3 linked regions of the Homo sapiens genome follow. The protein of the gene in region 1 interacts with the protein of each later gene in a pairwise test. Each region holds a gene or a part of one and is shown on either strand. Other genes may lie near its edges.

Region 1 (3,019 bases):
TCCTCCACTTTATTGAGTCTTTTCCAGAGTTCCCCTGAGTGTACTCAAAGTACTTTTGAGGGTTTTCCCCAGTCTCCTCTCCAGATTCCTCAGAGTCCTCCTGAAGGGGAGAATACCCATTCTCCTCTCCAGATTGTTCCAAGTCTTCCTGAGTGGGAGGACTCCCTGTCTCCTCACTACTTTCCTCAGAGCCCTCCTCAGGGGGAGGACTCCCTATCTCCTCACTACTTTCCTCAGAGCCCTCCTCAGGGGGAGGACTCCCTGTCTCCTCACTACTTTCCTCAGAGCCCTCAGGGGGAGGACTCCCTGTCTCCTCACTACTTTCCTCAGAGCCCTCCTCAGGGGGAGGACTCCATGTCTCCTCTCTACTTTCCTCAGAGTCCTCTTCAGGGGGAGGAATTCCAGTCTTCTCTCCAGAGCCCTGTGAGCATCTGCTCCTCCTCCACTCCATCCAGTCTTCCCCAGAGTTTCCCTGAGAGTTCTCAGAGTCCTCCTGAGGGGCCTGTCCAGTCTCCTCTCCATAGTCCTCAGAGCCCTCCTGAGGGGATGCACTCCCAATCTCCTCTCCAGAGTCCTGAGAGTGCTCCTGAGGGGGAGGATTCCCTGTCTCCTCTCCAAATTCCTCAGAGTCCTCTTGAGGGAGAGGACTCCCTGTCTTCTCTCCATTTTCCTCAGAGTCCTCCTGAGTGGGAGGACTCCCTCTCTCCTCTCCACTTTCCTCAGTTTCCTCCTCAGGGGGAGGACTTCCAGTCTTCTCTCCAGAGTCCTGTGAGTATCTGCTCCTCCTCCACTTCTTTGAGTCTTCCCCAGAGTTTCCCTGAGAGTCCTCAGAGTCCTCCTGAGGGGCCTGCTCAGTCTCCTCTCCAGAGACCTGTCAGCTCCTTCTTCTCCTACACTTTAGCGAGTCTTCTCCAAAGTTCCCATGAGAGTCCTCAGAGTCCTCCTGAGGGGCCTGCCCAGTCTCCTCTCCAGAGTCCTGTGAGCTCCTTCCCCTCCTCCACTTCATCGAGTCTTTCCCAGAGTTCTCCTGTGAGCTCCTTCCCCTCCTCCACTTCATCGAGTCTTTCCAAGAGTTCCCCTGAGAGTCCTCTCCAGAGTCCTGTGATCTCCTTCTCCTCCTCCACTTCATTGAGCCCATTCAGTGAAGAGTCCAGCAGCCCAGTAGATGAATATACAAGTTCCTCAGACACCTTGCTAGAGAGTGATTCCTTGACAGACAGCGAGTCCTTGATAGAGAGCGAGCCCTTGTTCACTTATACACTGGATGAAAAGGTGGACGAGTTGGCGCGGTTTCTTCTCCTCAAATATCAAGTGAAGCAGCCTATCACAAAGGCAGAGATGCTGACGAATGTCATCAGCAGGTACACGGGCTACTTTCCTGTGATCTTCAGGAAAGCCCGTGAGTTCATAGAGATACTTTTTGGCATTTCCCTGAGAGAAGTGGACCCTGATGACTCCTATGTCTTTGTAAACACATTAGACCTCACCTCTGAGGGGTGTCTGAGTGATGAGCAGGGCATGTCCCAGAACCGCCTCCTGATTCTTATTCTGAGTATCATCTTCATAAAGGGCACCTATGCCTCTGAGGAGGTCATCTGGGATGTGCTGAGTGGAATAGGGGTGCGTGCTGGGAGGGAGCACTTTGCCTTTGGGGAGCCCAGGGAGCTCCTCACTAAAGTTTGGGTGCAGGAACATTACCTAGAGTACCGGGAGGTGCCCAACTCTTCTCCTCCTCGTTACGAATTCCTGTGGGGTCCAAGAGCTCATTCAGAAGTCATTAAGAGGAAAGTAGTAGAGTTTTTGGCCATGCTAAAGAATACCGTCCCTATTACCTTTCCATCCTCTTACAAGGATGCTTTGAAAGATGTGGAAGAGAGAGCCCAGGCCATAATTGACACCACAGATGATTCGACTGCCACAGAAAGTGCAAGCTCCAGTGTCATGTCCCCCAGCTTCTCTTCTGAGTGAAGTCTAGGGCAGATTCTTCCCTCTGAGTTTGAAGGGGGCAGTCGAGTTTCTACGTGGTGGAGGGCCTGGTTGAGGCTGGAGAGAACACAGTGCTATTTGCATTTCTGTTCCATATGGGTAGTTATGGGGTTTACCTGTTTTACTTTTGGGTATTTTTCAAATGCTTTTCCTATTAATAACAGGTTTAAATAGCTTCAGAATCCTAGTTTATGCACATGAGTCGCACATGTATTGCTGTTTTTCTGGTTTAAGAGTAACAGTTTGATATTTTGTAAAAACAAAAACACACCCAAACACACCACATTGGGAAAACCTTCTGCCTCATTTTGTGATGTGTCACAGGTTAATGTGGTGTTACTGTAGGAATTTTCTTGAAACTGTGAAGGAACTCTGCAGTTAAATAGTGGAATAAAGTAAAGGATTGTTAATGTTTGCATTTCCTCAGGTCCTTTAGTCTGTTGTTCTTGAAAACTAAAGATACATACCTGGTTTGCTTGGCTTACGTAAGAAAGTAGAAGAAAGTAAACTGTAATAAATAAAAGTGTCAGTGACTCATTTATTTGATGAACATTGTATCAGCATTTGCTCATAGAAATTACTGTTAGTAGTGAAGTTACCATTAAAAGCAAGACTCATCCCTAACCCTAAAACGGTAGAGTGTAGGTCCAGAAGCCATATCAGGAATGTGGTAAGATTTTCTCTACAATCTAAAGAATAAGTTTAAAAAGGAGTGGGGAGGTGAGACTCCAGATGGAGCCTTTGATTAAAAAGGCCCTGAGCTAAGGCAGTTTTGGGCTTTGGGCAACTGTAGGTGCTTCTGTGGGAGCTGATCGTTATGAAGCTGGGTGGTGGCAGGGCCCAGACTCTCAGAAGGTGAGAGAAAAGCCTGGAAAGGAAAACCACTTGAGCAGTTCCCTCTGGGTGGAGGATGAATCAGAGAGGAGTCTCCACACGGAGAATTAATGGAAGGTGTTCTGTGGCTCTGTAACTGGTGAGCTTGAACACAGTGCAAGGACTAGGTGATTGATACCCATCATCTGCAAGTTTTCCT
Region 2 (7,038 bases), on another chromosome or scaffold:
TTTGATAATAACTTTAAGCATTATTTCAGATTACCTTACGGAAAAGTGTGGAATCAGCATTAAGACAGTTAGAAAGAGAAAAGGCGCTTCTTCAGCACAAAAATGCAGAATATCAGAGGAAAGCTGATCATGAAGCAGACAAAAAACGAAATTTGGAAAATGATGGTTTGTGGTGTAGAATATTAATTACTCATCAAGAAAAAAATTAAGTGTGTGTATGTGTGTTATGCTAAGCTTGCCACTGAAATGCTTTTTATCATAGTTAACAGCTTAAAAGATCAACTTGAAGATTTGAAAAAAAGAAATCAAAACTCTCAAATATCCACTGAGAAAGTGAATCAACTCCAGAGACAAGTAGGTGGATCTAATTTGTAGTAAAGATACTGGGTTTTATTTTTAACGCGATAACATTAGTTTTAATTGACAGTGTTGCAAAAGGCCTTTACCTCTAATTTTAGAAATCATTTGGAAAATATTTTTAGGTTTTTGTTTATTTTAAATAGTTTCTAATGGGGGAATACATTGACTTATTTTCATTACATACATGTGTGTTTGTTTGTTGTTGTTTGGTTTTGAATGGAATAACAGCTGGATGAAACCAATGCTTTACTGCGAACAGAGTCTGATACTGCAGCCCGGTTAAGGAAAACCCAGGCAGAAAGTTCAAAACAGATTCAGCAGCTGGAATCTAACAATAGAGATCTACAAGATAAAAACTGCCTGCTGGAGACTGCCAAGTTAAAACTTGAAAAGGAATTTATCAATCTTCAGTCAGCTCTAGAATCTGAAAGGAGGGATCGAACCCATGGATCAGAGATAATTAATGATTTACAAGGTATTGAAGTCGTGGTTGCACTTGAATTAATTTTGATGATTCTTATTTTAAAAATAACTTTAGATGATGGATAGTGTGCTGGATTGGACATTTCTGAATATACTATTATGTAAAGTTAGAATATTAGAAATACACTGATACAAAATTTTAGGAACAAAAGATTTAATTTCAAATAGTATGATTTTAAGTATTAAACTCTTCAGGTAGTAGATTGGATTCCATTTGAATTAACTATAAAGCACAATACCAACAAGTATAAAACTTCTGCTCACAAACAACAGCTCCAAAATAGAAGGTGGCTTGCAAACTTTTTATTCCTAATTGAATGTATATACTTTGTGGGTTTAATGTTTTAAAAAAACGTTGCAATTTTTAGGTAGAATATGTGGCCTAGAAGAAGATTTAAAGAACGGCAAAATCTTACTAGCGAAAGTAGAACTGGAGAAGAGACAACTTCAGGAGAGATTTACTGATTTGGAAAAGGTAAAACATGTTTTATATTTTTGCATAAGAAAATTGACAGTAGACTTTCAGGTTAGAAAAGTTATTCTAAACTAAGGGAAGTCACTAACTGGAATATTTCCACATGCTCATGGATTCCTTTTGATTTGGACTTGATGTGTAGATAAGAGATGTATCTGCAGGCTTACCATAACACTGTACAAGCAGCCCTCAGCATGCTGGTTGCTCATGAAGTAAGGGGACCCATCCTGGAGTGTAGATAATGAGGATCTCTCTAGGACCCAAGGAAAACTCAAATTTCGACTCATAACATGTCTTAAAAATGCCATATATAAAGTCACCATGACTTTTGGCATTTAGAAGTTTTTCTTTTAAAATACTCTAAGAAAGGGATGATTTCTAGAGTCTATGCAGTTAGCATTTTATTTTCATTCACTTATTTATTTACTCAGCTAAATATTCAGTGTGTTATATGTGGTAGAAATATCAGGATGCAGTCCTTGCCTTGAATAATGTCACAGTTGAATAGTTAAGTTTAAAAGTAATAATAAAGCACAAAGATAATTCTAATGACAGTATGGCAAATAGAATGATAAGACTTATGGACAGGGTATATGTATTGGGTGTATGGGATGCATCCCTAACCTGACAGCAGGATAGGTCCGTAGGGCAAAGGCACATTCTAAGTTAGGGAGAACAGCATGAGCAAAGACATAGAAGATGGAAAATAAAAAAGGCATTGTTTGTTTTCTGGAGTATAGAGTGGGAGTCAGCAAATTTTAATCGTTTAAAGGCATGGTAATAAATATTTTATCTTCTGTGGGTTATATGGTCTTGCAACTGTTCAGCCCTGCTGTGATTCATGAAGGAATGGATGTGGCTACGTTCCAGTGAAACTTAAAAAAGAAAAAGGCATCAGGTTAGATTGGCCTGAAGATCACAATGTGGTTGTTATGTAAGGACATGAGGAATTCAGTGGTCAGAATGAGGCTACAGAGCTCGGCATGAGGTAGATCATGCAAGATAGCGAATACTCTATTAAGAAATTTTGAATGTAGTAATGGGCTAGCCACTTAAGGGCTTTAAATTGGATGATCTTATTAGAGGTACATTAAAGATAGATCGCTGTATACTGTGTGGAGAAAAGATTTGAGGAGGACAAGACTAGAGGTAGAGAGACTGGTCAGTAGACTTTTTCAGTAATGCTGATAAGGAATAATGGGAGACTTAGTACAGCCATTAAAAGGTTGGAAAAATTGGAAGACTCAGAAATATTTGGAAGAGGAATATTTGGCAGCACTTAATAGTTGATTAGATATGGCATATGAGTAGCAGTCAAAGATGAGTCCCAGATTTGTAGGTTGTGACAAGATATATAGTGATGCTGTTAATAAAGAATAAAGGAAAAATAGCTCATGAGACAGTGATAAACCCACTTTAGTCCTCTTAAGTTTGAGGGTACCTATGGGACAGCCAAATTAGCATGTCTGCACTGCAGTAGGCTATAGTAGTAGAAGTTAGAAATATTTGAGTCATTGGTATGTAAGTAGCTGAAATCATGTGAGTGGAATAGCCCATCTGGGAAAAGACTGTGTGAAGTAGTGATTTTTTTTTTTCTTTTTTAGGACAGAGTAGATTACTCTGTTGGTGGATTATGTGGTTTGAGAAATCATTTTTTGTATGAAAGGCTTTATTTGGAAAAAAGCCTTTATCATATTTATGATATGAACTATAAAAATCAAAGAATTAGAAAACCTTTGGGGTTTATGTAGAAAATAGGAGGAGTATTGGGGCTTAGATCACCAACATTTAAGGGACAGCTGGGAAAGCTTCAGGAGCAACAGAAAGGATGCAAGCAGAATGGAGAGAACCAACTAAGTACAAGGTCGGCAATGCCAAGGGATAGTTTTAAGGGGGGCAGTGAGTTCAAATAAGACTGAAAAGGGTCTTTAGAATTTGATATTGAGAATAGCATTGGTCTTTTTGTTGAGATTAAGTGAGCTTGATACAGATCTCAGAACAGCAGAGTGGTGGTGTAGACTGTTGGGTACAGTGGGAAGTAGAGAAGTAGAGTATATAGATTACTATTCTAAAAGGTTTGAGTGAAGACGGGAGGGGAAATACTGAACATTCTAGTTAAGCCTGTTAAAAAACAAGTTAAGGTTGAGCACCATGGCCCACACCTATAATCTCAGCACTGTGGGAGGCTGAGTCGGGAGGATCACTTGAGCCCAGGAGTTCAAGATCAGTGTAGGCAGTGTTTAATGAGACCTTGTCTCTACATTAAAAATAAAATAAAATAAATTAGCCAGGAGTGGTGACAAACTTCTATAGTCCCAGCTACTTTGGAGGCCAAGGTGGGAGGATTGCTTGAGCCTGGGGAGGTTGAGGCTGCAATGAGCCATAATCAAACCACTGCACTTCAGCCTGGGTAACAGAGCAAGACTCTGTCTCAAAAAAAAAAAAAAATTAGAAAGCTTTTGAAATTGTGAGCTAGTCTCTTTTTTGTTGATAGCTGCATTTTAAATATTTAATAGGAAAAAAGCAACATGGAAATAGATATGACATACCAACTAAAAGTTATACAGCAGAGCCTAGAACAAGAAGAAGCTGAACATAAGGCCACAAAGGCACGACTAGCAGATAAAAATAAGATCTATGAGTCCATCGAAGAAGCCAAATCAGAAGCCATGAAAGGTATGCATTTTTTAAAGAGGGTTTTCCAGCAGCGTCTTCCTAAGAATTGATTCTGTGTTAGCTTTTTGGTTTTGAAACATTTTTTTTTATATTTCATTGTCAAATATTGGGAATTGGAGGGAAAAAAACTATTAGGGAAGCTTTACATAGATATTCTATTATTTTTCCTTTGTATCATTACAGTAATCATTTCTAAGATAGTAAGACCCAAACACAAAATTACATGATCAGATTTTTAGATCAGAGATAAATTAATATTTCTCAATATTATATACCTGGTAATATCTGTACCACTCGGTATACGTGTATCAGTAGTAAGAAGGAATATCTGAACTTCACACGCTGTATACCTGTTACTATTGATACAGGTAATTCTTGTAATACAAGAGTTTTGTATTATAAAATTCTTGCCAGTTTATGCAAGGTAAGAATTTAAAAGTAATAGCTGGTCTAACTAGAATATAAGTTCACTGAGTATTTTGATCTCTAACATGATGAAGATACTAGCCAGATTTGGTCGAAGCCATATAATACTAATAGATAACAAAGTTAACCTTCCCATAAACTAGACTTTATCCTGGAATTGTCTTAGGATAATTTTTTCTTTTCCAAACTGACTGTTTATAATGACTCTGAAATTCCAGAGAAAATCAGTACTTTAAGCTATTCTTGTGAAAGGCTTAAAACTCTTGAACAGAAATTTATTTTCATATTGAAGCATTACATGAGTAACTAACTTAGAAAAAATAGCCTTTTAATTATTGCATGTAATTAAAATGGTAGATTTTCTTAGTAAAAATCAGTGTAGTTTAAGGCACTAAATCAGGATGATAAGAAATGAAATGAGTACTTTATTTACAAAAATCTAATTGTAAGGGAGAAAGTTACTGGGCCATATTTCCTTGTCTGTGGCCTAGAAGACAGAGTTCAATTATTTTCATTGAGGTATAATTTACATGCAATAATAAAATGTAAACATTTTTGACATTTCGTGATATGCTCACATAACTACTGTTCAAAACAAGATAAAGAATATATCAGGCTAGGCATGGTGGCTCACATCTGTAATCCTAGCACTTTGGGAGGCCAGGGTGGGAGGATCTCTTGAGCCCAGGAGTTTGAGACCGGCATGGGCAACATAGCAAGACCCTATCTCTACAAAAAATAGAAAAATTAGCTGGATGTAGTCGCGTGCGCCTATAGTCAGAGCTACTTGGGAGTAGGACTCTCAGTATTCCTGCAATGATGCAGGAACATTGCTTGAGCCCAGGAGTTCAAGGCTGCAGTGAGCCATGATTGCATCACTGCACTTGAGCCTCAGTAGCAGAGCAAGACCCCATCTCAAAAAAAAAAAAAGGACTATTTTCATTATCTCAGTAATGCCTCTTTCTATTCTCAATGCCTACATTATGGTGATTGTTTTTTTTGTTAAATGAGGACATTTGTTTAGTGATTATTCTCTGAATTGATAAAAATGAACCAATTCAGTATTAACTACCATTTTTTTCAAACTATTAAAACGCTAATGTAAGATACATGATGACTTCCATATTTTACACATGAGTACACAAAACTGTTACATATTATAGATGGTTTCAAATCTGAGGCTAAAGCCTTTGGTCCTTCTGTTGCATGTCATTGGCTCCTTGGATTAAGAACATGGCTCACCAAATAATTACTAGCTATGTGACCTTGTCTAGTTATTTAAACTTTCTGTGTCTTGTTTCCTGTGAAGGGACAATTACAGTATTGTTACGTTGTTGTGAAAATCAAGTGCAATAAAACATGTAAAGTGTTTAGAAATGCTATTATTAGTACTACATGGGGAATGTTTCATTTTTCTGCACTTTTGAAGACCATTCATTAAACACTAAATATTCATAGGTTTAATTTTTACCTAATACAACTTTATAATAGATGATAATTAGATGTTGAGCATTAATTATGAAAAAGCAGAGGAGCCTTAATTGAATGTGAACTGAAGTACTAACCAGTATATCAAGATAATCCTTTAACTGTGATGACTTACATTTAACACTGAAATCACTTGGAACTTTGCCTTCTGATAAGTAAAATAGATTAAAAATTTATTGTAAATAATTTAGAAAACACAGGAAAGTATAAAGAAAAAAGCAAAGATTACTCATAATCCTATGAGTTAGGATACTATTTTGTAAATTTTCTCCACTTTCTATACCGTTTTGCTTTTTAAAAAACAAGACATTGTGAGCGTTTCCTTGGTCATTAAAAATTCTGCTTAAATAATAAGCACTTACCAAGTGCTTGCCATATGCCAGGCAGCATTTAAGTGGTACACATGTATTAAATCTTCACAACCTCCCTAGGTGCTGTTATCCCTATTCTGGAGATAAGGAAACAGGTCCAGAGAGGTGAATTACTTGCCCAGTCAAACAGTGTTAGACCCAGGGTTTAAGCTCAGAAAGTTTGGTTCCAGAGTCTTGTCCTTTACCACCTCCCTAAAACATATTTTTCAACACCTGCATAATAATGTGTTAACATGGAAAGTCCTATGGAGATCATAGAATCTACCTGGATTGTTTTAAGGTAAAAATAGTAACACTGAGAGACATAGAATAGCAGTAAGCAGTAGAATATAAGAAACCTTTGTTTAAAGATGTAAGCATCTTGTAGAATATAAATAAAGGTAGAACTATCTTGCTTCCATTAGAATAGATGTAATATTGCAGAGTGTGATACATTTTTACACCCTGTGAATGAAACTCCTAATTTTCAAGTATGAAAGTGAAAATATTAAATTGAAAATTAAGGCCAGGTGCAGTGGCTCATGCCTGTAATTCCAGCACTTTGGGTGGCCGAGGCGGGTGGATTGCATGAGGCCAGGAGTTTGAGACCAGCCTGGCCAACATGGCAAAACCCCATCTCTACTAAAAATACAAAACTTAGCTGGGTGTGGTGGCACACGCCTGTAATCCGAGTTATGTCTGGAGGCCGAGGCACGAGAATTGCTTGAATCCAGGAGGTTACAAAGAGCTGAGATTGCGTCACTGCACTCCGGCCTGGGC
Region 3 (7,252 bases), on another chromosome or scaffold:
GCGCTCAGTGATGCACGCCTCCCATCTGCTCAGGAGGCTTCGGCAGAAAGATCACTTGAGCCTGGGAATTCAAGGCTACAAATGTGCTATGATTACACCTCTGAATAGCCACTGCACTCCAGCCTGGGCAACATACCAAGACCACGTCTCTAAAAAACCAAAACGAAACAAAAAAAAAAAAAAAAGAAAAACAAACACAAATCAGGGCACTGACATGTACAGTTGTTTCTTGAAACTGATGGACTGACAAGACAGCAATATGATTGGTGGATCAGACAAAGTTACCAACCTAATAGAACAACAAGTCCTAAGGTCAAGATTAATTGTTATGTAACAAATCCTGGCTGTCCACTGGATATTGCTTTCAAAATAAGAGTCCATAGAGGGCAGAGGGGATAGATAGTAATATAAAAGGTATTTGTTAATACCGAAAAGACTGAGAAAAAACACTTCCCTTTCCAATGTGAAGGACTAAATAATCCAAACTTTTCCCACTATAAAACACAGACTTTTCTAAGTCATTGGATGTGGGGCTCTGGGGTAGCCTGAGCTGTTTGTCCCACACCAAGATGCTTCAAAACATTATTAAAAATGTTTGGATCCCCATGAAGCCCTATTATAACCAAGTTTATCAGGAGATTTGAGTAGGAATGGGGTTAATGAGCCTCATCATTTATAAAATCAGGAGTACTGATAAAATAAGTAAAATATTGAAAGCTTCTCCACCTGCTTATGGTCATCACTAACCAGCTTCACTTAGCATGCACATGAAATGAAACATTAGTCGACCTGTGAATTTAAGCAAGCTATGTTAGAAAGGAACCTGGAAAATCACTGTACACTTATATAAGTACCACTTACTTTGTGGCATGAATAAGTATACCAAAAAAAAACACCCAGAAATGCCAGATAAAATACAATAAATATCATTTTAAGCTGGGTGTGGTGGTACGAGACTGTAATCCCATCTACTTGAGGAGCTGAGGCAGAAAGGCTGCTTGAGTCCAGGAGTTCAAGGCTGCAGTGAGCTACGATTATGCCTGTGAATAGCCACTGCACTCCAGCCTGGACAGCATAGTGAGACCTTTTCTGTTAATACAAAAAGACAAAAAGCAGCGAGGCACAGTGGCTCATGCCTGTAATCCCAGCACTTTGGGAGGCCAAAATGGGAGGATTGATTGAGCCCAAGAATTCAAGACCAACCTGGGCAACATAGCTCCCTATCTCTAAAAAAAAAGAAGAAAAAACAAGAAAAATCTTTTTAAATGGGTGGATGCCAGGCATGGGGGCTCACACCTGTAATCCCAGCACTTTGGGAGGCTGAGGTGGGAGGATCACTTGAGGCCAGGTGTTTGAGACCAGCCTGGCAACATAGGGAGACCTCTGTCTCTACAAAAAATTTAACAATGAGCCAAGTGTGGTGGCCCACTCCTGTAGTCCCAGCTACTCGGAAGGCTGAGACGGGAGGATCCCCTGAGCCCAGGAGTCTGAGGTTGTAGTGAACTGACTGCACCACTGTACTCCAATGTGGGCAACAGAGTGAGACCCTGTCTCAATAAAATAGAATACAATAAATGCATGGAATATGGAGGAGGGAAGGTTTTTCTTTTAATCTTATACCCAATTATAGTTTGTATGTTTTGTTTTTGCTTCTTTTTTTTTTTTAAGACAGAATCTCACTCTGTTGCCCAGGTTGGAGTGCAGTGGTGTGATCTCAGCTCACTACAACCTCCACCTCCTGGGTTCAAGCGATTCTTGCACCTCAGCCTCCTGAGTAGCTGGGATTACAGCTGCCCACAACCACGCCTGGCTAATTTTTGTATTTTTAGTAGAGACAGGGTTTCACCATGTTGGCCAGGCTGGTCTTGAACTCCTGACCTCAGGTGACCCACCCACCTCAGCCTCCTAAAGTGCTGGGATTACAGGCATGAGCCACCGGGCCTGGCTAGTTTGTATGTTTTGATTTTGTGTATATATTAGTTTTATTTTTGCTAAGGCATGTTTTTAATTTTTGTTATTGTGCTTTGTTTTCATTTTCATTATTTATTTTGAGTAAGTTATACTTAAAACAAAAATCAAGATTCAAAAAGTATAAAAGGGGCCAGGCATGGTGGTTCACACCTGTAATCCCAGCACTTTGGAAGGCCAAGGTGGACAAATCGCCTGAGCTCAGGAGTTCGAGACCAACCTTGGCAACATGGCAAAACCCCGTCTCTACAAGAAATACAAAAATTAGCCAATGTTGTGGCATGTACCTGTGGTCCCAGCTACTCAGGAGGGTGAGGTGGAAGGATCACCTGAGCCCGGGAGGCAGAAGCTGCAGTGAGCCAAGATACTGCCACTGCACTCCAATCTGGGCAACAACAACATCCTGTGTCCAAAAACGTATAACAGGTCAAACCGTAAAACTTGTCTCTCTTACCCTTATTCCCAGCCTCTCGGTTCTTCTTCCCTATCCTTCCAAAGATGTTTTATGTAAATACAATCAAATATACACATGCATACTCTTATCCCCCTTGTTAACACAAATTTTTGTTTTCTTTATTATTTCTTTCAATAGAGGTGGGGTTTTGCTATGTTGGCTAGGTTGGTCTTGAACTCCTGGCCTCAAGCAATCCTCCTGTCTCGGCCTCCCAAAGTGCTAGGTTCATGAGCATGAGCCACCAGACCCGGCCAAATTTTAGCTTTCTTTACACACTATTCTGCATTTTGACTTGTTTCATATACCAATAGATTTTGAAGATTGTTTCATATCAATGCATAAACAGTTTCCTGTGTTTTGTTATAGCTGCATAGTATTCAGATTATTGATGTACCTTTTTTTTTTTTTTAAGTAGAGATAGGGGCTTGCTATATTTCCCAGGCTGGTTTCAAACTCCTGGCTTCCAGGGACCTACCTGCCTTGGCCTTCCAAAGTGTTGGAATAATAGGGTGAGCCACCACACACAGCCCCATAATTTATTTAACCAACCCTCTATTGATGGATATTGAGACTGTGATATAGTTTGGGTGTTGGATCCCTCCAAATCTCACGTTGAAATATGATTCCCAATGTTGGAGGTGGGCCCTGTTGGGAGGTGACTGGATCATGGGGACAGATCCCTTGTGAATGGTTTAGCACCATCCCCTTGGCGATAAACTGGGACCTCCCCACCTAATTTTCTTGTTCCTATTCTCGCCATGTGACATGCTGGATCCCTGTCACCTTCAGCCATGATTGTAAGCTTCCTGAGGCCTCACCAGAAGCACATGACAGCACCATGTGCTTCCAGTCTTTTGCTATTATAAACAATGCTGCAATGTACAGCCATGAACACGTGTCATTTCACAGCTGTGTGGATTTATCTGTAGGTTAAATTTCTAAAATTGGAATTTCTGGGGCAATGAGCTTGTGCATTTATAATTTTGATATAAATTACCAGTTGCTTTTCATTTAAAGACATTCACATCAGCAATGTGAGAGTGCTTTGTATATACTGTGTTTAAGAGAATAATTTTTTTTTTTGGGACGCAGTTTCGCTCATTGCCCAGCCTGGAGTGCAGTGGCGCGATCTCAGCTCACTGAACCTGTGCCTTCCGAGTTCAAGTGATTCTCCTGCCTCAGCCTCCCAAGTAGCTGGGATTACAGGCGCCCGCCACCACGCCCAGCTAATTTTTTTGAATGTTTAACAGAGACAGGGTTTCGTCATGGTGAAACCCTGCCTCTACTAAAAATACAAAAAAAATTAGTTGGGCGTGGTGGCGCGTCCCTGTAATCCCAGCTACTTGGGAGGTTGAGGCAGGAGAATCGCTTGAACCCGGAGGCGGAGGTTACAGTGAGCCAAGATCAAGGCACAGCACTCCAACCTGGGCGACACAGCGAGACTCCGTCTCAAAAAAAAAAAAAAAAAAAAAAAGTGAGGCGCAAATGGGAGGTGAAGCAGTGAGGTTCGCAAGTGTAGACACGCTCAAGGGACTCATTAAATGTCATTTCATTTAAAAAATGAAATTGAGCATATGTGCAAGCAAGGTTCACACACCCCATTTAATCTTCACACCACCACGGGGTAGTCACTATTATCCCCATTTTACAGGATTAAAACACTGACGCTGGGAGGTTGACAGAGTTACACCAAATCACACAGAGGAGCTGGGCTTCCCCCGACCTCCTCCGCTCAAGTCTCCCTGTCCCCGGGAGGTGCGGAAGGAGGCAACAGACGCTTGGCCCATAGGTGGAGCAATTGGCGAAGGCTTCGCCCGACGCCGGAACTGCGAGCTCTCAGCGGGAGCCGAGACGGTGCAGGGCCGGAGAAGCACCTTCACTCCCAGCCTGCGCCCCGATGCTGCGCGTTCTGTGCCTCCTGCGCCCCTGGAGGCCCCTTCGGGCCCGCGGCTGCGCTTCCGACGGGGCGGCCGGGGGCTCAGAGATCCAAGTGCGCGCCCTGGCGGGTCCGGACCAAGGTAAATGTGCAGTTCCGGGGCGGCGCATGACGCGACTGGGACTAGGCCGGAGGCAGCGGGGGACCGGCAGGTGGGCCGCTCAGTGCGTTGAAGGATTCGATCCCCAGTCCCTCCCTCCCAGTTCTAGGCGCCCCAAACCGCTCCAGGCCTGAGAGGTGGGCGGCCGCCTTAGTGGCTCCAGACTCTAGCTGGGGGCGGGGGGCCTCTGGCAACCTCGGTCTCTTCAAAGGCCCTTTGGGGTCTTCCGACTGTGTGGAAGGGGGAGCGGGGTCCGCACGGGTAGGACTGGGCCCCGCGGCCCCCAGGCCAGGAGCGTTTAAGTGCGCGTTCCCCTCCCCCGCCAAGGGTCCTGGCCCGGTTCGGGGGCGGAGGCAGCGGAGCCAGTCCCAGTGCCCAGTGCGGCAGCGGGCAGAGTGAGGAGGGTGCCTCTCCAGCCGCGCGCCCGCCCTGGGCCGCTAGCGAACCTTTGCGTCCTTCTGGCTCCAGGGAAAAGTTCGCTGTTTCTCCGCCTTTTGGCCAAGATCAAGGATAGTATGGAGCGGGGACGAGGGGTGGGGGGCAAAGTTCGCGGGTCACTGGCAGAAAACGCCTCTGATCGCGTGTTGCGTTTTTGTTGTTGTTGTTGTTTGAACTTCTGGAGCATTCAGTGGTGCTGATAACGCTCCTCAGTCCTCTGCTGGTAACCATCAGGGCTAGGCGCTTCTCCTGCCTTGGGTCTCCTCCCCGCATCTCATCCCCTGTCTCCTGCATTTGATACACAGATGGCATTGTACTGTACATTTCGTTGTATTGCTTCTTTTTTTTTTTTAACAAAAGTTTATTCTTAAATGTACAACAGCTCCAAGACAACACTTAATTCCAGCCATAGGTGGCAAAAGATGTTATGGCAGGGAATAGAGAGGTTTAAATACTGATGAAATAAAGGGTCACCATCTCCTTAGGCACAGGGAACAGCTTACTTTTTGCCAGATTTCTTAATTCCACTTGTGGCCAAGGGCCCCTTCCCCGTGGCCTTCCATTTTAGCTCCTCGAGTTTCTTCTGCTCCTCTTTTTGTTTCTGCTTGAAAGCCTTATCTTCCTCGTCCATCTCCTTGGCCTGCATTCTTGGGCTGTTTCAGTGGCTTCTTGCCACCTTCGTGGCCGGACATGGCGCCTGCCGCCCCTTCCCCAGCAGTATTGCTTCCTTTTTACCGGCTTGACAACAAGTTTGAAGCGGGGCTTTGCCATAAAATCCAGTTCCTTGCTCCCTGCTGTTGCCCACTGTTCCCAAGTGTGCATCTACCACCTTCAGTGGACACGGACAGGCCACCTAGAGTCCCACTGCACCACTTGGTGAGAATTTCCTTGAACAGTTAATATTGCTGAACCTTATACCCCCAATCTCATGCTTAGTTCACTACCCAACTGGCAACAGCTCTTAAGACAGTCAAGATTATTCTCCCCACTTTACAGATTAAAAAACTGAGGCACAGAAGGTTAAGTTATTTGAACCAGGTCTGATTTCAAAGCCTGTGTTCTCAACCATTAGGTAATCACTGGCTCTTCTAGTAATTCAGTGACTCAAAATACAGACTTGTACATGTGTAAACACAAAATTATCATGGGTTAAAGACCTTTAGGCTCACTTGCAAATATCGGGAATCATTTTATCCAAAAAAGAATGACAAGGATCAGCAGATTAAGCCTCTGCCCCTGCCAGAGGGCTCAAAGGGCAGGAAAAGGCAGTGAGAGAAGGAGAGACAGAAACCAAGATGACAGTGCAGAGGAGGCATGGGGATGAGATCACACACGGAGCCCTCACAGGGAATGAGTTGGGGTCATTTGATGTTCATATTAGAAGCTGCAGGTTCTGCCTTCCACTGGGGCTGATGGCACAAGAGCACTGTTACATTTTACCTGCTGCCTTTGAGCTTGAGGTTGGGTGGTAAACCATTCTTCACTGTTCTTAGCGGCTTTATTTCTCATAGAGTCATGTGTTGCTTAACAACGGGGCTACATTCTGAGAAATGCATCATTAGGTGATTGTGGTCATTGTGGGAGCATCACAGAGTGCACCTACACAGTCCTAGATGGGGTAGCCTACTGCACACCAAGGCTACATGGTGTATAGCCTGTTGCTCCTAGAATACAAACCTGGACAGCATGGTACCGGGCTGAATACTGTAGGCAACTGTAACACAATGGTAAATGTGTATCTGAACATAGAAAAGGCACAGTAAAAATACAGTCTAAAAGATTTTTTAAATAGTACACCTGTACTGGGCAGTTACCATAAATGGAGCTTGCAGGACTGGAAGCTGCACTGGGTGAGTCAGCGAGTGAATGGTGAGTGAATGTGAAGGCCTAGGACAGCAGGGACTGGTTTGGCACCAGGGACTATTTTCATGAAAGACAGTTTTTCCATGGACTTGCGGGCGGACAGATGGTTTGGGGATGAAACTGTTCCACCTCAGATCATCAGGCATTAGATTCTCATAAGGAGCTCGCAACAACCTAGATTCCTCACATGCACAGTTCACAATAGGGTTCGCACTCCTATGAGATTCTAATGCCACCACTGATCTGATAGGAGGTGGAACTCAGGTGGTAATTCAAGCCATGGGGAGCTGCTGTAAATACAGATGAAGCTGCTCATCTCCTGTTGTGTGGCCCAGTTCCTAGCAGGCCACAGACTGGGATGGGTCCACAGCCCGGGGGTTGGGGACCCCTGGCCTAGGACATTACTGTACACTACTATAGACTCTATAACACTGTACACCTAGGCTACACTAAATTTGCTTTACAAATGTTTCTTTCTTCAATGATAAATTAA

The links. Proteins that work in one complex are often made in the same cells at the same time.
Region 2: the proteins of MAGEC1 (region 1) and ROCK2 interact in a two-hybrid assay, tested with the Homo sapiens proteins (one study listed by BioGRID).
Region 3: the proteins of MAGEC1 (region 1) and ECHDC2 interact in a two-hybrid assay, tested with the Homo sapiens proteins (one study listed by BioGRID and IntAct).

What each region holds. Positions count from the first base shown.
Region 1 is NC_000023.11:141,906,866-141,909,884, forward strand, and holds the end of MAGEC1 (melanoma-associated antigen C1), read left to right. Parts: coding exon 1-1,968; 3' UTR 1,969-2,509; downstream 2,510-3,019.
Region 2 is NC_000002.12:11,208,637-11,215,674, reverse strand, and holds part of ROCK2 (rho-associated protein kinase 2), read left to right. Parts: intron 1-29; coding exon 30-165; intron 166-262; coding exon 263-354; intron 355-588; coding exon 589-835; intron 836-1,211; coding exon 1,212-1,318; intron 1,319-3,834; coding exon 3,835-3,994; intron 3,995-7,038. UniProt on the Homo sapiens protein: Protein kinase which is a key regulator of actin cytoskeleton and cell polarity.
Region 3 is NC_000001.11:52,918,741-52,925,992, reverse strand, and holds the start of ECHDC2 (enoyl-CoA hydratase domain-containing protein 2, mitochondrial), read left to right. Parts: upstream 1-4,252; 5' UTR 4,253-4,319; coding exon 4,320-4,440; exon of another isoform or gene 4,441-7,252.